Homo sapiens: one gene and its partners. The protein of the gene in region 2 purifies or fractionates together with the protein of the main gene of each other region. This does not show direct contact. Each region holds a gene or a part of one and is shown on either strand. Other genes may lie near its edges.

Region 1 (5,103 bases), on a different chromosome or scaffold from region 2:
CACACACCACCACCAAGAATTCCTTTCAGTGTTGTTGTTTTAAATAAGCAAATACATATTATTTCATACATTACTGTACATTCTCCTCCTTGTTTTTTTTCATGTAACATATCCTGGATATCTGGGTATCACTCCATAGCAGTAAAGAGAGTTTTTTTTTTTTTTAACAGCTCCATAATTCTCCTCTGTGTGGATATAACAGTTTATTTTACCAATTTCTTACTAGACATATTATTTCCAATATTTAGCTATTGAAAATAATGCAACAAAACCTTATGCACATGTTATTTCATATTTATGGGGTATGCCTTCAGGATAAATTCCTTGAAGTAGGATTTCTGGATTAAATGCATTTGCAATGTTTGAGATTATGCCAAATTCCTCTTCAGGGAGTCAAACCACCTTACATTTTAACCAGCAATACACGAATGCAACTCTTCGCAGCCACACCAAAGAATGTATTGTCAAGTTTTTGGATCTTCTCCCAACAGAAGAGAAATCACAGCACAGTTTTCGTTTGTATTTCTCTTAAGTGTGAAGCTGTGTTTAAGGATCATCTGCATTTATTTTTCTGTGACTTGTCTATTCATCACTTTGCTACCTACTTTTACAGCTAGTCTGATCTTTTTTTTTTTTTGAGACAGTCTCACTGTCACCCAGGCTGGAGGGCAGTGGAGCAATCACAGCTCAATGCAGCCTTGACTTCCTGGGCTCAGGAGATTCTCCTGCCTCAGCTTCTTGAGTAGCTGGGACTATGGGTGTGTGCCACCACACCTGGCTAATTTACTTTTTGTAGAGGCAGGGTCTCAGCACGTTGTCCAGGCTAGTCCCAGCCCACTCCTGGGCTCAAGCAATCCTCCTGCCTCTGCTTCCCAAACTGCTGGGATTATAGGCATGAGCCACCGTCTGATCTTTTTCTTAAACAATTAAAAATATTGGCCGGGCATGGTGGCTCACACCTGTAATCCCAGCACCTTGGGAGGCCAGGGTGGGTGGATCACGAGGTTGGGAGATCGAGACCATCCTGGCTAACACGGAGAAACCCCATCTCTATTAAAAATACAAAAAATGAGCCGGGTGTGGTGGCACGTGCTTGTAGCCCCAGCTACTCGGGAGGCTGAGGCAGGAGAATCGCTTGAACCCAGGAGGCGGAGGTTGCAGTGAGCCAAGATTGAGCCACTGTACTTCAACCTGGGCGACACAGTGAAGATTCCATCTCAAAAAAAAAAAAAAAGAATTAAAAATATTTCCCAGGCTATAATCCTCCAATGGTTTCCTATCACAACTAAAGTCTATATTCTTTGCCAAGGCCCACTATACACACATGGCCTTAACCCACCATAGTCCTGGCATCCTTTTCACTCTTCCGCAGCCACCCTGTGTCTTTCTGTCCTTGGCCAAAAACAAGTTTGCTCCCATTCAAGGAACTCCAAAGTAACTGTCTGTGTGGACCCCTGGCTCTCACCAACCATCCTCACAAGGCTCCCTTCTCACTTTAGGACTGCTCACAGGTCACGTAAGGAGAGCAGCCATCTTTCATCCCCACAACCCCCATGTAACTGTCCTCCTCCCCAATCCATGACCCTATTTTACTTTTCTCCCTAGCACCTCACCACCTAACATTCTTGATTATTCATGTATTATCTATCCCTAGCTCCCTCCAGAATGTAAGGATCAGAGTTAGGATGAGGTTCTGTCTTGTATACCACTGTCTGCCCTAAATCTGGAACACAGCCTGGCCACCTAAAGGTACTCAATAAACATCTGTTTCAGCACACCCAAAACTAGTCAAGTTTCTCCCAGTTTTCCCACATCTTTTAATATTTCTTCTAACATTCTCTCTTGATTTGTCATCTAATCAAATCTTTTAAAGTGGTAAGCATCAAATCTTTTAAAGTGGTAGCTATTCAGAATTAAAGATGCAAGATAGGCTACCAAGAAACAAAAAATATTAAATGATGAATTCTAAAGTCCAGGGAAAAGTCAATGCTAACTCCAATTTGACATAAGAACTTTTTTTTTTTTTTTTTTTGAGATGGAGTCTCGCTCCGTCACCCAGGCTGGAGTGCAGTGGCGTGATCTCGGCTCACTGCAATCTCTGCCTCCTGGGTTCACACCATTCTCCTGCCTCAGCCTCCCGAGTAGCTGGGACTACAGGCGCCCGCCACCACGCCCGGCTAATTTTTTGTATTTTTCGTAGAGACGGGGTTTCACCGTGTTAGCCAGGATGGTCTCGATCTCCTGACCTCGTGATCCACCCGCCTCGGCCTCCCAAAGTGCTGGGATTACAGGCGTGAGCCACCACACCTGGCCCATAAGAACATTTAATACTAAAATATCTTAACTACAAAATGACTCAACCCATAGATTTAACTGAATTCTACAGGGAGGTACAAGGCATCAGTCATCAAAATATGTTTTTATCGGTACCCTTGAAATCAAATGTAATGAGACTGTGTATGATGTTACTAGAAAAGATGCCCAATCATAAAGGATAGGTAAATAAATGATACTCCAACCATCTGATGGTACATTAAGCAGTTACTAGAAGGCATGCGATAGAGCAGGGTGTCCTGGCATGGAAAGATATCTTGGAGCACTCTCTGGATGTCAAGCAGTGATTCAGGAATTTATGACATTATTTCACTGCTGTAAGTTATGAAGCAGCTCATATAGAATGATCTCATTTTTCTAAAATAAAATGTTATATTCATATGCATACCATAATCAATGACTTTTCTGTATTCTCTATGTCTTTTACATCAAACATATTATTCAAAAAAGCAAAAAAAAAAAAAAAAGAGAGGGCTTAAAATAGCTACTGGAAAGAGGAAAGATCTGTTGCTCAGAGGTTTTTCCACATTACATTGCCAATTCTTTCCCTACCTTCACCCATCAGTGGAAAAGAATAGAAAGAGTCACTTCAGAGAGCGCCTTTAGCCAGCAAATTAGCAAAGCTCCTAACGTCAGAACATAAAATGCTCCATGAAAAGTCAAGAGTACTAATAAAATCGGACAATAAGATCTTAGTATCTTATTTTGTGTTACTGATACTACCGTCAGTTATGTTAGACATACCGTTAAATAAAGGCAAGGTAGTAGAAAATACTTTGAGTCTATCTGAAATGTTTACTAGGTTCTTAGGAGCATCTCTTAGCTTGACGAGACCAGGCGTGGTGGCTCACACCTGTAATCCCAGCACTTTGGGAGGTTGAGACAGGTGGATCACCTGAGGTCAGGAGTTCCAGACCAGCCTGGCCAACATGGTGAAACCATCTCTACTAAAAACACAAAAAATTAGCTGGGCGTGGTGGCACACACCTGTAATCCCAGCTACTCAGGAGGCTGAAGCAGGAGAACTGCTTGAACTCTGGGCGCAGAGGTTACAGTGAGCCGAGATCGCGCCATTCCACTCCAGCCTGAGCAACAAGAGCGAAACTCCATCTCAAAAAAAAAAAAAAGGCCAGGCGCGGTGGCTCACACCTATGATCCCAGCACTTTGGGAGGCCAAGGCAGCTGGATCGCTTGAGGTCAGGAGTTCGAGACCAGCCTGGCCAACATACTGAAACCCTGTCTCTACTAAAAATACAAAAATTAGCTGGGCATGGTGGCATATGCCTGTAATCCCAACTACTTGGGAGGCTGAGGCAGGAGAATCACTTGAACACGGGAGGAAGAGGTTGCACTGAACCAAGTTTGTGCCATTGCACTCCAGCCTAGGCAAGAGTGAAGCTCTGTCAAAAAAAAAAAAAAAAAAAAAAGAAATAGCTTGAAGAACAAAGCCGAGCGTCATTTATGTATGATTTTTGTCTAAGTAACAAAAATAATTCTTCATTGTAGAAAAGCTAAATTTTTTGTTTGTTTGTTTGTTTTGAGACAGAGTCTTGCTCCACTGTCCAGGCTAGAGTGCAGTGGCACGATCTCAGCTCACTGCAACCTCTGCCTCCTGGGTTCAAGTGATTCTCCTGCCTTAGCCTCCTGAGTAGCTGGGATTACAGATGCCCGCCACCACACCCAGCTAATTTTTGTATTTTTAGTAGAGACGGGGTTTCACCATGTTGGCCAGGCTGCTCTCGAACTCCTGACCTCGTGATCCGCCCACCTCAGCCTCCCGAAGTGCTGGGATTACAGGCGTGAGCCACCATGCCCAGCCAAATGTTTTACATCTCAGTAAGAATTTCTGTTTCCAGGGAGACTGATATAAAATTGTCTGAAATAAAGATATTAAAAGCAAACTTTCAATGTGTCTATACTTTATATTTGGTGTTCTGGCCATGTTTCTATGGAAACTTATGAATAATAGGCAAATGCCGAAATGGAGATTTCTATTATCACTTTATTGAATGCCACAAAAATAAATTTTGAGACAAATTGAAATAAAAATGTAACTGTCATACTAACATACAATGGTAAATTCTGTGCTTACAAATTCTCTTTTTCCAACTTTTCTGATTTAGCACTCTTTATCATCATCCCATGCTTAATGCCTGGTACCTTACCTTCCCTCTTGCCAGCTTCTAATATTCCTCTGTCCAGTGCATTCTCAGCTTCAATTCACAGTTACCAGAACAAACTCTTTAAAATTTATCAACCTGTTTATTTGATGGGTATATTTAGGCCATTTTGTTACCTCTACTTTTATTCTTATCCACTGAAATGAATGTATAGACATAAGATGGAGCCAGGCAAGATGGCACACGCCCGTGGTCCCAGCTATTCAGGAGGCTGAGGTGGGAGGACTGCTTGAGCCCAGGCCAGGAGTTCGAGGCCAGCCTGGTCAACACAGTGAGACTCTTTCTCTTAAAAAAAAAAAAAAAAAAAAAAAAAAGAGATGTAAGTGTTGCCTCTGAATCGTGTAAAATAAACTTTGAAAGGAACTAATCAAGACCGAAGTAAGTTCTCAAAAACAGGACTATTTTATGGGTAAAATACATGATGCATTCTGGATTTTTAAAAGTTTTTTAAGAACTGAACTTGGTATATCTCACCTCCATGTCAGTCTGAGAACTGAGAACCTTAGTTCTGCTCAGTGGCTGTCTTACATAGTCATTCTACATACCTAACTCTTTATTTCTTCATTAGCAACACGGGGAATATAAACAG
Region 2 (5,103 bases):
GCCAGGTGTGGTGGTGTGCTCCTGTGGTCCAAGCTTTTCCGGAGGCCGAAGTGGGAGGCGTGCTTGAGCCTGGGAGGCAGAGCTTCCGGTGCCCCAGATGACTCCACTGCACTCCAGCCTGGGCGGCAGAGTGAGGCCATCTCAAAAAAAAAAAAAAGGAAAACTAAATATATTCACTGTAAGGGCATTTTGCATCTTTAAATGACCCACAAATCTGGCATGCATCAGCTGCTCTGCCTGTAGGTTCCTTCCCAGTGTTTGTCCAGAGGTGTATTTCCACACAGCGCTAGTCACGGCATACGTGGAAAACGTGGAAACCCTTCATGGATGTTGTCAGTTGGTCTATATTTTCTTTCTTTTTTTTTTTTTTGAGATGGAGTTTCACTTTTGTTGCCCAGGCTGGAGTGCAATGGCGCGATCTTGGCTCACTGCAACCTCCGCCTCCTGGGTTCAAGCAATTCTCCTGCCTCAGCCTCCCAAGTAGCTGGGATCACAGGCGTGCACCACCACGCCCAGCTAATTTTGTATTTTTAGTAGAGATGGTTTCTCCGTGTTGGCCAGGCTGGTCTCGAACTCCTGACCTCACGTGATCCACCCGCTTCGGCCTCCCAAAGTGCTGGGATTACAGGCGTGAGCCGCCACGCCCGGCCTTTGTCCATATTTTCTACATGGCTTCTGTAAACAGCTGACTAGGAGTCTGTGTGAATATCTTCATAGGTTCTGCTGTGACACTACTTGCTCGTGAGCATCTCCAGGTGTAAACAGCATCAGCTTCCCCCATTTTCCTTTAAAATCGCACATGTGGACGGACACCACGGGGACCCTGGACCCTGGGGAGCCCCGTCCTCACCCTTCTCACCAGGATGGCTGCTTGGTAGAGAGTGAGTTTGCAAAGTTGGCATTTGTTTAGTACAGAAGTTATCAGGTGTTCTGGCTTTAGAATCCCTTTATATATATATATATATACATATATTTAAGTGACAGGGTCTCACTCTGTTGCCCAGGCTGGAATGTGGTGGTACAATCAAAGTTCCCTGTAGCCTCGGCCTCCTGGGCTCATGGGATCTTCCCGTCTCAGCGTCTTAAAGCGCCGGGACCACAGGTGTGCACCACTGCCACCGGCTCTCAAGATTGCCACGCAGGGAGTTGCAGTGGGGGAAGGGGTTCCTGGGACTTTGAACGCTCCACCTCCCTCCTCTCCACAGTCCCCCAACCCCACCTCTCTAACGGGGTGGACGGCCGCCTCTTTCCATCCTTCGCTTGGCGCAGGGTGGGGAGAGTGACAGGTCTCCTTCCCTCATCTCGGCAGCTGCCATTTCATCGCTTACATAACGTGGGAGAAACATCCACCCACCCCCAGGCCTGTGTGAACATCACCACGGGGCCTTCTCCACTCTTCAGTTTTGTTAGTTACTTGATGTGCAGGGCTTTTTGTTGTAACTAGTGGGGGACGTGTGGTGGGGTGGGCTTCTGCCATCTCATTCAGGACCAGAACTTCAGTTTTCATCCCTATCTGTTCCCCCACCCCTTTGGAGATGGGGTCTCACTCTGTCACCCAGGCTGGAGAGCGGTGGTGCCATCACGGCTCACTGCAGCCTCCACCTCCTGCAGCCTCCACCTCTTGGGCTCAAGTGATCCTCCTGCCTCGGCCTCCCAAGCTCCTGGGACTACAGGCGTGTGCCACTGTGCTTGGCAGGGTCCATTCTTTTCCTCACACTTTATTTATTGAAGAGCCCAGGCCGTTTACCCTGCAGAGTCGGAATCTGTACAGGAGGGGCAGCCACACGAGTTCCCCGGTTTACTCTGAACTTAGGTGGCTTGAGGGCCCCAGTTAGACTGCGGCCACCGTTTGCCGGGCTCCAGATGGGACGTCCTTTCTATCAGAAGGCTCACAGTATCTCCTTTCCCGTTTCTTCCCATGTGAACATTGTTGCTGCTGAACACCTGAATATGTTAATCACTGGGGGCTTGCAAGATGGCAGTGTGCTAATTCCATCATCTAGTCAGTTAGCAGGAATAACTTAGGACCACGCCCTGCACCATATCAGCTATGTGGTGATCCCATTCACACAGGAAAGGTGGGACAAATGCTGGGGGTGGGCCGGGTGTGCTGTCTCACACCTGTCATCCCAGCACTTTGGGAGGCCCAGGCAGGCGGATCACGAGGTCAGAGATTGAGACCATCCTGGCCAACACGGTGAAACCCCGTCTCTACTAAAAATACAAAAAAATTAGCCAGGTGTGGTGGTGCATGCTTGTAATCCCAGCTACTTGGGAGGCTGAGGCAGGAGAATCACTTGAACCCAGGAGGCGGAGGTTGCAGTGAGCCGAGATCGCACCATTGCACTCCAGCCTGGCGACAGAGCGAGACTCCGTCTCAAAAATCAATCAGTCAATCAAGTGTCATCACTGAATGTTTGTGTGTGAACGTGGGGATTGGTCCTGCCCCATGCTCCCTCCTGAATCTCACTCCTGACCTCAGTTGCTGCACCTTGAGGTGTTTTCATGTGGGCTCTTGTGTCCTGACCCCGGCGGTTGTGGCCTCTTTGCTGTCTGGGAGTCAGGATTTTTCACACTCATGTCCTGCTCCAGACCTGGAATCAGCCAAGTCTCCAAGAAGCCCTGCTTTCTTTTCCTGCAAGACGGTATTTCAAGACCCGCCATGCGGCAGCGGGTTGGTCATGGTTACTGGGTTGGTCGTTGTTACTGGGTGTTTTCGTGGAGATACAGCCATACGCACAGGTGTGTTCACAAATGTTAATTCTAAAGGTCAAACACCCGGCCAGGCATAAGGGCTCAGCGGTAATCCCAGCACTTTGGGAGACCAAGACTGGTGGATCACCTGAGGTCAGGAGTTTAAGACCAGCCTGAGCAACAGGGTGAAACCCCATCTCTACTAAAAATGCGAAAATTAGCCGGGCATGGTGGCGCACACCTATAGTCCCAGCTAGTCGGGAGACAGACACGAGAATTGCTTGAACCTGGGACATGGAGGTTGCAGTGAGCAGAGATGGCGCTGCTGCACCCCTGCCTGGGTGACAGAGTGACACCCTGTCTCAAAAATGAATAGATAAATAAAGATAAAACACCTGCTCCTCTTGGTGTCTCCAGTTTGGATTTGGCCTGTGTAGCCTCTTCCTTCGCCTGTTGGTGGATTTGGCCTGCACGGATTCTGTGTGGCCTCTTCCTTCCCCTGTTGGTGGATTTGGCCTGCACGGATTCTGTGTGGCCTCTTCCTTCCCCTGTTGGTGGATTTGGCCTGCACGGATTCTGTGTGGCCTCTTCCTTCCCCTGTTGGTGGATTTGGCCTGCACGGATTCTGTGTGGCCTCTTCCTTCCCCTGTTGGTGGATTTGGCCTGCACGGATTCTGTGTGGCCTCTTCCTTCCCCTGTTGGTGGATTTGGCCTGCACGGATTCTGTGTGGCCTCTTCCTTCCCATGTTGGTGGATTTGGCCTGCATGGATTCTGTGTGGCCTCTTCCTTTCCATGTTGGTGTCCTTTTTTCCATGCCAGGAATCCTGGTTCTCAAGGGCGGGGTTGTTGGCACGAGCGTGATGCAGACTGCCTTTGCTGCCTTTCTCTTGCCCAGGGCTGAACATGGAGCTGGAAGACATTGCAAAGCTGAAGAGTAAGTGTTGCCCTCCCCGCCTCCTTGCAGCTGGGTGGGGCCTCCTCCTTGCGAGGAGGTGGGTGACACCTCCTCGACCCACAGTGATCCTGCTGCGCCTGGAGGGGGCCATCGATGCTGTTGAGCTGCCTGGAGACGACAGCGGTGTCACCAAGCCAGGGAGGTGAGAGGCGGGGAGCCAGCCCCTTCACTGCAGGCCCAGCCTAGAGCTAGAAACGGGCCATGGTGCAGTCCTGGGCTGTCACATCACGAGTGAGGCCTGTTTTCAGGCCTGTTTTCCCTTTTTGAGACCTGGGAGGAGCACCTGCTTTGCATGATCTGGTTGCTGAGATGTTGAGAGGAGCAGCACACACTCCCACGGGACAGCACACAGCCCCCCACGGAACGGCACACACACCCATGGAACAGCACACACACTCCCACGAACAGCACACACACTCCCACGAACAGCACACACACTCCCACGGAACAGCACACACACCCACGGAACGGCACACACACCCACGGAACAGCACACACACTCCCACGGAACAGCACACACACCCACGGAACGGCACACACTCCCACGGAACGGCACACTCTCCCACGGAACAGCACACTCTCCCACGGAACAGCACACACACTCCCACGGAACAGCACACACACCCACGGAACGGCACACACTCCCACGGAACAGCAGACTCTCCCACGGAACAGCACACACACTCCCACAGACAGCACACACACACCCACGGAACAGCACACTCTCCCACGCGGGGCCGCTGGGTTTCCTGCAGTTTCTCCTCCTCCAGGCCTTTCCCTGGACCCTGGTCCAGTCCGTCATTTGAGCACAGGTGCCTGTTAGAACGAGACCTTCTTGTTAGGACGATGAGTGTCCCAGCCACCACCTCTTTTGGACTCCGGGAGGCCTGGAACGTTCTGAACGCTCCGTGGGGCTCCAGTCTTCTCCGCAGCCAGGGCAGCAGGGTTTGCTGTCTGTCCTGCAGGCAGATGAGGAGTCAGGGCTGGGGCCTGTGTGGGGGCTCTCCTGAGCGCACAGCCGCCGAGGTGGAGCGTGTTCTGCCTGAGCGCCGACCTGGTCGGGGGAATCCCAGTTGCTTCCAGGTGGAGCCACTGTCCTCAGCGTAATGCTCAAGGCTCTGGCCTGGCTCCTCGGCCACCCTGCACCCTCAGGGTCCCCTCCTGTAGCTTCTGCTGCCCCATCACTGTCACTCTCCAAAGCTTTGGGGACTCTGCCCAGAGCCACCGCCTCCCAGAAGCCCCTGACAACCTCTTGACGACCCCCTAGTGACCCCATCCCTCCCCTCTGACGGCGGCCCCTGCTCTGAGGCGGCTTCTTTTCCTCGGTGCTGTTCTCGTGCTGGCCAGGCCTCCTCTCCCCACCTGGAGGCTCCTGAGGGCGGAGGCCTCTCACCTCCAATGCTGGCGTCCCCTGGAGGGCTGAATTTGTTTCCGAGGGAAGGAAACTTCCACA
Region 3 (5,103 bases), on a different chromosome or scaffold from region 2:
GAAAGAAGTGGGGGAGTCTGAAAACATATTGAGAACTGGACTATATTTCAACTTCTACCAATTCTCTCTGTCTTCAAAAGCACTATGCTCTTATTATAATCAACAGTTGCAGACATTCTCAATACATACTTAACTGACTTCGACAGGCACAAAAAGACATTAAGAACAAGATTTAACAGATAATAGGATCAGTAGCGCAATTCAGGAACTCTGGGATCCCAGCCCTCCAGCTCCACGGCCCATTCTAATAGTAATGAGACAAGAAACCAAATAACTTAACAAATCCTCCATCATCAAAAATGGCTCAGAAAGAACCCACTTGACTCAGAGAAAAAAACCTGAAACTGTTTTACAGCTAATTTACACTCAAGCAACAACAAAGTAGCTATAGCTGTTTTCATTTCAAAAGGAAAACATAAAATAGAAGAAAAGCAACAAATCCACAATGACACTGTAAGTCAATTTTGAACGCGGGAGTTCTAACTCACTGTCTGACTCTATCCTTCCAAAATAAGCAACTTCTTTGTTCAGAGAATTCTATAAGCTGCTTTAAAATGCTAAAACATGATTTGTAACAAGAGAGTGTAAAAGTCTCACCTGGTGGTAAAAGTCATCATCATCAAAGATTTCTTCATCCAAGTCCTTCAGATGAGCATTAGCAGGGGCTTGAGGAAGGATCTCCTATGTTAACAATGAGTAAGAAAAGAGTGAATCCCAACAAGGCTATCTAACTAATGTAGCTACTATAAATAATATGTAGAACAGTCAAAGCACTGTTTTCCTTAAGATATAAAAAGTTCTTAAAATTAAAAAACAAAACAGTCCAATATGAAAACAGGCAAAAACATTAACAGGCAGTTGACCAAAAAAACCCATAAATAATCATATGAAAATATGTTTACCCTCATTCAAATTAAATATGTGTAAATTAGAATTAGAAGATACCATTTTTCACCTCTACGACTGAAATTAATGCAGCCTTTTTGGAGGCAATTTGGCAACATCTATCAGAATTTGGTGTATTTTCTTTAACACTTCCACTTCAAGAAATCTACCCATATATTTATACGAACACATAATACATGTACAGGAATCTTTCCTGTAGCAGTGTTTCTGAAACTGGAGACAACATAATATCCATTGTTTGCATAAATGATAGTGCATATCCATACAATGGAATACTTTGAGGTCATTAGGAAAAATGAGGTAGCTCTCTAGGTAATGAAATGGAAAGAGTATCTAGGACTTATTAGATTTTAAAAGTTGCAAGACTTTAAATACAGTTGTAATATTTTACATATTTATACTACATAAATGTCTCTCATTTAGTAAAAAAGGCAACCATATTTATACATATATATTTGTTATTTGCACACATATATAGTTACACAAATAGAAAAGACCCAAAAACTTGTTACAACTATTAATTATTAACTGTAAACTTGTTACAACTATTAAATACTGAAAATTTCACCTCAGGAGTTACGTTAACAGGCAATTGACAAAAAAAATAAAAAAATTTCACCTCAGGAGTGAAATTTTCAGAGTAGAGAATTTTGCTTTTCATTTTAAGTTGCTATAAACTAAAAAAGGATTAAGTATATATTTCTTCCATAATTAAAAAATTTTAAATGTTTCCTTTAAACAAAAGAATTTGACTATTCCACTTCTGCACCCTTTCTAAAGTACCTAAATGGCAAACGTTGAGCCTAAAGTACACACTTGTTTCAATACTGACATTTCTACAGAAGTAGCTTTAAAACTGAATTTTGAAAATTGGATTATGAATGCTTCTACTACCAGACTCCTGCATCAAACTCAAAATTAAGAGAAGATGACACACAGGAGTTAATAGAAGCCCCATTTTTAAAAACTCTCTCCTCTCACATACACTCAAGTTTCTCTCAGTAATCCAGTAAAGTAGTGTTGCTTTCCTTTCTCTCACTAACCTCTTATATAAACAGGTAATAGCTACAAGTTTTTCAGCTAATAAGCCTCATAGAAACTATTCCCCATAATCACTCTGCATTACAGAGTTCTTACCGGTTCCCCTGGCAAACTCTCTGGGACAGGCTGAGCTGCTGGCTCAGGTTTGCCAAGAACTCGATAGACAGAGCGCTTGGTCTGTGTCCTTCGAAGTAATCTCTCTTTGTCCATCAGAATATGGTCGATCTGAGTCAAGATTGAGCGTTCAAAGGCACCAAAACCCTGCAACAACATTAAGCAGTGTCAGATAATGCAGAAAATCAGTGCTGAAGGCAAGCTACATTGGTTTCTCTATCTTTCTGTGTCAGCAGAGAGATAGAAAATCATCTTTTCAGGAGGGACTTTCTGTAAAGGACTGAGTTTGTGAGTGGCTATAATTGTTCTTAAAAAAAAAAAGTTAGTCTTAAGCAGGTCATATCATTTTTCTACACACGGAGATTAGCTTCTGATACTTTAATAATTATTGCTTTGAAATCCACTCCTTTAAAGTATTTGGATTTTCAGCACTTGAACACTTACAAGGCCTCAATTTTAAGAATAAAACATTCTTTCTAATAAAGTTAAAATCCCAAGTCTGAATCGTATAAACCCCAGTGCCAGAAGTTCAGTAGATTTTGCTATAGAAATGAATGATTACCATTACATCGTGACAACATCCATATAAATGAGCTGTAGTTCCAATTTCTTAAAACTTCTTCAAGTTGCCACAACCTATCTTACACATACATGCGCGCATACACACACTTGCCTTCCCCAGTTTTCCAGAAGCCAGTTTGGTCTTATCGTGCCATTTCTGAAGTGTGCGGTTCCTGTAGACTGTAAAGTCGGCAAAGCGCTTTGCCATGAAGCTGGGATAGTCCTCCATCTCCAGCTTCCTCTTTGCAGGGACCCTTCTTCGTTGCTGCTTCTTCTCTTCTACCAGCTCATCATCTTCACTAGAAATCTCCTCACTAGAAAAGCAGTAAGAATATTATGTCCAGTGTAAACAAACATTACTTAGATTTTAAAAACTAGGCTCACATAAAGGACTGAGAATATTTAGGCCTTACCTGTTCTGTCTCCATTCAAAATAACACCAAAGATATAAGGATGGCTTTTGCTCTTTGAGAAGAATATTCATGAGATCAATCAAAAACTCGTGTAACTTTTTTTTTTGAGACAGTCTTGCTCTGTTGCCCAGGCTGGAGTGCAGTGGCGCGATCTTGGCTCACTGCAACCTCCACTTCTGGGTTCAAGCAATTCTCATGCCTCAGCCTCATGGGTAGCTGGGATTACAGGTGTGTGCAACCATGCCCGACTAATTTTTTTCATATTTTTAGTAAAGATGGTGTTTCACTATGTTGGCCAAGCTGGTTTCAAACTCCTGGCCTCCAGTGATCCACCTGCCTCGGCCTCCCAAAGTGCTGGGATTACAGGGCATGAGCCACCACACCCAGCCTCATGTAACTTTTAAAACAAATATAAAAAGAACTAGTTTCAAAATATTTTTTAAAAGGTAAGTAAACCATAAAAATAAATGAGGTTTTAAAAGAATTATTAGAAATGTGTATGAACCAGGCCTGCAGTATTATAGGACAGTATTTAAAAATTAAACACATAACCATATTTCTACGACCTTAATCCTCAAATCAATAAGGGAAATGTGTCTCTCTGTAACCAACTGTTAAGGAAAGATGAATAATATTAGTTGAACCAAATACAAGAGAAGCTGAATGTGAAGAAAACTCAAAGCGGTAGGCAACAATTAGCACTAACTAACCTGCAGTGCCATCTATGCAACTGCCATGGCAATGTAATACAACCTCCAACTATCTGCCAGTTGCACTCACTGGATTACTGACCTCAACATATAATAGGTGCTCAATAAATGTGAGTTTCCTTTTTGTCCTCCCAACTAGTTCAGTAGATAAAAAGTGAAACAAAAGATAAGCTCGAGGGAAAAAAAGCAAGCAGGTATATACAGCAGGTGTAAACAAAAGGGGGAAAAATCTTCATCAAATGTAATAATTTCAGGGGGAAAAAATAATTATTTTGCTGTTTTCTGAAATTTTTCCATCTTTCATAATAACAGCTTTTATTCAAAGGAGATGGCTGTGACCAGTGATTCCAATATATGGTATGGGCACAGAATGTTTCATAAACATTAATTAAGCATTAATATTTTAAAAATGTGCTTTTGGCCAGGTGAAGTGGCCCATGCTTATAATTCCAGCACTTTGGGAGGCTGAGGTGGAAGGATGGCTCGAGCCCAGGAGTTTGAGACCAGATAGGGAAACACAGCAAGACCCTGTCTCTACAAAAAAAAAAAAAAAAAATAGCCAGGCATGGTGGCAAGTGCCTGCAGTCCCAGCTATTTGGGAGGCTGAAGCAGGAGGACCGCTTAAGCCCAGGAGTTTGAGGCTGCAGTGAGCTGCGATCACATCACTGCACTCCAGCCTGGATGACAGTGTAAGACCCCATCTCTAAAAAACAAAGTGCTTTTATCTTCTAATTCCAATAGATCTAAAGAGAAGGCAAGCCTTTGTCTAAGACCGCAAAGCACATCAGGTACAACTAAATATAAAAATCTAAAATCTAATCACCAACTTATGTGCCATCCTGACCATCAGGTAAATATGAGACTCTATTTTACTAACATTAATATCTGCCTGAAGAGAACTTAGCTTTTCTTTCATAAATGATGGGAAACTATCCAAATGAAAAGAAAATAAGCAACTCCATGATTCTGTTCTCTTACCTTCCCGCATTGGGCTTTGTCCCATCTACTAGATATCTAGTGTCTGGGTACTGGAAAAGCAACTCTTCCTGAAGACCTACCAATGACCTCAACAATGCTTTAAGTGCCTTGTGACCTGGGAAATAAAGGACAGAGAAAGGACAATTAATTATCTACAATTCTCCAAAGTAGGTGATGCCTATAACTCATGACTCCTGAGCAGTTCTGGCTGTGGGGAGTGAAGGGGAGGCACAGGATACACACAGGAACTAAATACTCTCTGAAATATTCCCAAATGGAAATAACAACGTTGCCTACCTCACAGGATTGTTGTGAGGAACAAGCAAGATCATGCATGTAAGGTGCTTAGAAAAGTGTCTGCAAAGAGTAAGAGTCCAATA
Region 4 (5,103 bases), on a different chromosome or scaffold from region 2:
TTCTAAGAGCGAGCTTTAAAAGCTTCTGAAAATAATCAGATTTGTTATTAATTACAACTAATAAATATAGTTAAATGTATAGTTACTTCAATGTGTTTTTATTGTACAGAGCAAATACGTATATTTAATGATGTTATATACACAATGTATTATCATTGGGTACCTCTCTGATAAATCTGATAAAAGTACAGTAGTATCTGGCAATTAATAAGTATTAAATGTGAATTAATACAGGTTGAATAGATAGCTTTATTCATGAACTTTTCTCTCTTTTTGGTGTATCAAAATCTAGCGTTCTCCTGTTGACATCCTTTATTAGGAAAACCCTCTGTGAAGAGGATATATTTAACCTTTGCATTTTCATTTTTAATATTTATTGGATAACGGCCACTTGCAAGCATACCGAAATAAAATCTGTTAATATTGATTTTGAGCCTACTTTTGCCAAATGTTGGATGCATGCATCGTTTTAAAGATTATATTATATCTGTCCTATTAGGGGTAAAACTGAATACTGAAGAAATAAAGAAATTATTACAGTAAAACGGAATCAAGAAAAAATAAGCTTATCACTTTTGTAATTTGGACCTTTGAACCTTTTTTTAGGGGACTCAAGAAATAATAGTTCAGTTGAAGACCAAAAACACCTGGCTTTATTGGTTATGGAGACCTTGACAGTGCTTCTTCAAGGATCAAACACAAATGCAGGTAATTTAAAAAGCTGCAAGCAAATACTTTGGGAGATTACCACTGATTACATCTTCTGTGGTTATTCTTGCTTCTGAAATCTTCCTGTCACTTTAGAGAAAAAACTATTGATTCAGTGATGGTACCCGTCATGTCCCTAAAAATGCAGTGCTTTTGACCATCAGGAGCACCTTGATGACAAAACATATAAGATTGTTACTATTTCAAAATGATGTTTAAATTGCTTTTTATAGTGTCTTGTGTTGAAAGTATTCTTCTAATTTTTTATTGATACACTCTTACTCAAATAAGTTGCTATTTAAATTCTTTCTAAAATATTTTCTTTACACAGTGATTTAAAGAATATTTTTAGTACTACAAGTTAGAGTATTATAATGTTACAACCTTCAGGAAATACTGAACAATGATTCTCTAATAAAACGTAATCTCTCCAAGGTTAATTAACTTTACTAAATATTTTGTTTAATTTTGGTCTCAATTTCTCTTTTATACTTTTCTACCTGTCATTAACAGATAACCTAACTATATTTATAAAATATCACTCTTGCTTTTTAAAAAAGATTACTTGAGATTTTAATTAACATCAAACAACTCTCAGGTAATAAGTTCAGTACAACTTGAGAGGAATAATGAGTTCAGATTAGTAGGCTGGGCTCAAATCATAGGGAGCTTTTTAGGCCATGGTAAGGAGCTTGAAATATATTTTAAGTGTTATGGAAAGCCATGGATGAATGAACCCCATGCCCAAATGCATGACTGTTTGCCTGAATGCAGGGAAACTCAGCATTCATCATATTTAAAATATATTGTGTATCCCAGGTACCATGCTAGCTAGGTGTTAGATTATTCTAACACCTAGATGCTAAGGTAAGATCATTCTTGCTCCCTGGGAATTAGAATCTAGTGAAGAAAAATGTAGACACATAATTATAGAAGTAATTAGTCTGATACAAATTTGGCAAATGCTAAGATAGACTTGAATGAATTTAACAGGTAATTGAAACAATGAGTATGATGAATTTTAGTGGATACTATAGTAACATTTTGTCTATGGCATAATGCATAATCTTATTTCCACTAACTAGGTTTAGTTAACTGAGATAATCAGAAACATAATGAAGATAGACTAACAGGAATTTGCTTAGCAAATTAGCTTTCCTTGAGACGACCTAGAAGTTGCACAGGAAGAGATTGGACAATTGGAGAGCTTACTCTGCACGACTAAAAGTCACTTAGTACATATCCCAAAGTGCCAAACAATTTCATACAATTCTTTTCAGTTTTTCTTTTCCCAGTATGAAAGATGTTACTAGCTGTGTGATGTTAGGCATTTAAAACAGTACTTTACTCATAGTTTAAGTATTTAAATAATATTAGCCATTATGATTATCTAGTGGGTCCTAACTGACAACCAGGAGGTAACTAAACAGGCCTTCAGGTAATGAAAGGATGTCACAAATTCCATGTGCTGAATCTCAAGCACATGGCTTAGACTGACTTCATGATCTTATAATTTTTATAAAGTTAACAAATAGAAAGCCACTAAGCAGAGAGGACAGTGGCTGCTATAGCAGAATACACTGTTTTAGTAAACGTTTATTGAAACACAAATCAGGAGAAAATCCAGTAGTCATGGAAGACCAAACATAAGCAATAATAGTAAGACTGTTTGTTATAAACCATAATAGAGATATAAACAAGATGCCCTAAAAACGTAAGGGATAGAAGAATTACTTAGAGGAAATACTAATTAGTGATTTCAGTCACTGGGCCCATTTTTTTAATACTGGAGGATGATATTAATATTTGATGTGAGAACAGTATCACTTGTGAGCAGGAGCACAGGCTTACAGAGCTGGGCTATGTAGGCATACATCCTTTTCTGTTGCTTACTAGCTGTATGACTTTGACCGCCTTACCTCTATATGGTAGGGGATGAGTATTAAGTAAGTCAATCTGTGTAAAGGCTTTGGAGCAGTAACAATGACACATACTTCTGTTACAGAATTTGTCACTTTTTGTTCTTATGCTCTACCTGTGCAACAAAACATGTTGGTTCCTTGTAATTTTTCCCATGGTGGAATAATTTATTCCATTCCTTTCTTGCTACTATTTTGGAAGCCATGTTCATTTAAATCTCCTTTATTTAGGCTATTGTTCCTCTGAAAGCCTTTTACATAAGTTGATTACAATAGAGAGTCTCCTAGGGTCTGCCTAAGAGACTTGTGAATGTTCTAGATTTTGAGAGCTTGGACATGGTGAACATATCACGGCATTAATCTTGCATTAAGGAAATGTAGAGAAAATTTGCATATACCTTTGCTGACAACCCACTGTGCAAATTTGTATTGTAATTTAAAAGGTGAAATAGTTGGGTAGGTTTTATTTACATTATTATGAGTTACTTTACCTACAAAAAATAACTGAATGTTAATTCATCTGACTTGTCTCAGAATATTTTAAAGTAGCCATTGTTGGACTTTTTCTCCTTCCTTCAAGGAATTTTTCGAGAATTTGGAGGTGCAAGATGTGCACATAATATAGTAAAGTACCCTCAATGCCGGCAGCATGCCTTGATGACTATCCAACAGCTGGTGCTCTCCCCAAATGGGGACGATGACATGGGCACTCTCCTGGGGCTAATGCATTCAGCCCCACCGACGGAATTGCAGTTGAAGACTGATATTTTAAGGGTAAGTTTGATAAATGTGTTTCCCTTCTTTTACTACTAAAATCTGTGGTTATTTTTAGATGATCTGTATTTAAGTTAGAGACAGGGAAATTAAAAAAAATCCAAATTACCCAAGAAACCTCACAACTTTGTACACGTTAGGAACTTGGAAAAACTCCAGTCATTTATGTCTTTCAGTATATATTTTACTTCTGCTGATAAACCTTTTCAGTAATTATCTTGACTTACTGGAACTCTTAAATTAAATATTAGTGAAGTATAGGATCTTAATTAATACTAAATATATGTATTTTCTGATCAGTTAAATTCACTCATAGTGTTATGCATCTGTGAAATGAATGTTAGATTTGGCATTTTATACACATGCATGCATATATGTATGTATGTAAGTAATGGATATTCTAGTAGATATCAAACAATATACCAGGAGTTATACATATGCTTTTATCATTTACTCCTTAGTAATACTATAAATTAAGTAGCACCCTGTTTTGCAGATGAGAAAACTTAGGTTTAGAGAAATCATATAACATGGATTTTGTTCACTTAAGTGACTTTTAATTAGTAGAACCGACCCCCAGATTTCAATACCCGTTTTATTTCCACAGCACCATTGTTTTATACAGATTTATACACTCACATTCTCCCATATTACTGGTTATTGATATTATAAGAAATGATATGTAAGAAATTTTTAGAATCAAACTATAATCGAATGTTTCACTTTCATTTAGAAGTGAATTTAGTAATGCAAGTAAGGAGTAATGGAAAAGTAGACTATTAAATATTAAATGATATATTTTAAAAATTTCCAAGTTCCAGATATAATAGTAGCTAACATTTATTGACTGCTTTCTATTAGTACTGTTGTATGCATTTATCTGCATCTACTTATTTAATCCTTATGATAAAAATAAATACTATTAGTGTCCCTGCTTTACATACTGTAAACTGAAACACAGACTGGTTGAAATATTTTCCCAAGTTCTATATGTCTGTCTAGTAGGTAGAGGAGTCTAGATCTGAACCCATGTAGTCTCTTTGTAAAGCTGTGCTTTCAGCTTATCTGCTGTGAATAATAGTTGTTTTAATAAAAAGAGACATAGCCTTCTCTTTCTGTGACTAAAAACCTGCTCTTGTATTTAAATAATATCTGAGTAAAGTGAAAGAAGTCCATTAAAATTTATGTTCTTTAATTTATTGATTGATGCAAGGTTTCTAAATACAATTTTCCGTTGTAAGGATTCAGGCCTCCTTGATTCCAGGACGAGGGCAGAGAAAGAAACAAAATGAGCCTAAAACATTTCAGTTAGCCTTGAAAAAGTAAAGAAGAGATCAAAGAAAATAAGCAATTAAGTAAGTACAATCAAACAAATAGAGAAGAGGAAAAACTCTTACTTATAGTCAAAAGTCAAAGAAAATCACAATTTATGAACTATCGTAGTAATAATTGATTCAAGTAAAATTCATCACTGGATACTAAAGATAGTAGATGAAAGTTTTAGAAGTGAAAGGATTTTTGCGTACTCTTAAATTTTATCCTTAAAAGATATTTCTTAATTTCGAGTGCTAAAATATTAGCTTTACAATGGACCCTACCGTAACTAAATGATCAGCATTAACTTTGCCAGTGATGGACAGATGAATAGCATACACCTCCTGATAGGAAGCACTGAGAAAAATTCAGCTCATTTTTGTACTTT

The links. Proteins that work in one complex are often made in the same cells at the same time.
Region 1: the proteins of RTEL1 (region 2) and CCNYL1 purify together in Homo sapiens (affinity purification with mass spectrometry, with the first as the bait; one large-scale study listed by BioGRID). This does not show direct contact.
Region 3: the proteins of RTEL1 (region 2) and AATF purify together in Homo sapiens (affinity purification with mass spectrometry, with the first as the bait; one large-scale study listed by BioGRID). This does not show direct contact.
Region 4: the proteins of RTEL1 (region 2) and WDFY3 purify together in Homo sapiens (affinity purification with mass spectrometry, with the first as the bait; one large-scale study listed by BioGRID). This does not show direct contact.

Annotation. Positions count from the first base shown.
Region 1 is NC_000002.12:207,714,038-207,719,140, reverse strand, and holds part of CCNYL1 (cyclin-Y-like protein 1), read right to left. Parts: intron 1-5,103. UniProt on the Homo sapiens protein: Key regulator of Wnt signaling implicated in various biological processes including male fertility, embryonic neurogenesis and cortex development. Activates the cyclin-dependent kinase CDK16, and promotes sperm maturation.
Region 2 is NC_000020.11:63,674,555-63,679,657, forward strand, and holds part of RTEL1 (regulator of telomere elongation helicase 1), read left to right. Parts: intron 1-3,089; exon of another isoform or gene 3,090-3,590; coding exon 3,591-3,629; exon of another isoform or gene 3,630-3,713; coding exon 3,714-3,792; exon of another isoform or gene 3,793-3,821; intron 3,822-5,103. UniProt on the Homo sapiens protein: A probable ATP-dependent DNA helicase implicated in telomere-length regulation, DNA repair and the maintenance of genomic stability. Acts as an anti-recombinase to counteract toxic recombination and limit crossover during meiosis.
Region 3 is NC_000017.11:36,986,352-36,991,454, reverse strand, and holds part of AATF (protein AATF), read right to left. Parts: intron 4,839-5,103; coding exon 4,724-4,838; intron 2,937-4,723; coding exon 2,735-2,936; intron 2,209-2,734; coding exon 2,044-2,208; intron 682-2,043; coding exon 598-681; intron 1-597. UniProt on the Homo sapiens protein: Part of the small subunit (SSU) processome, first precursor of the small eukaryotic ribosomal subunit.
Region 4 is NC_000004.12:84,815,690-84,820,792, reverse strand, and holds part of WDFY3 (WD repeat and FYVE domain-containing protein 3), read left to right. Parts: intron 1-606; coding exon 607-708; intron 709-3,207; coding exon 3,208-3,401; intron 3,402-5,103. UniProt on the Homo sapiens protein: Required for selective macroautophagy (aggrephagy). Acts as an adapter protein by linking specific proteins destined for degradation to the core autophagic machinery members, such as the ATG5-ATG12-ATG16L E3-like ligase, SQSTM1 and LC3.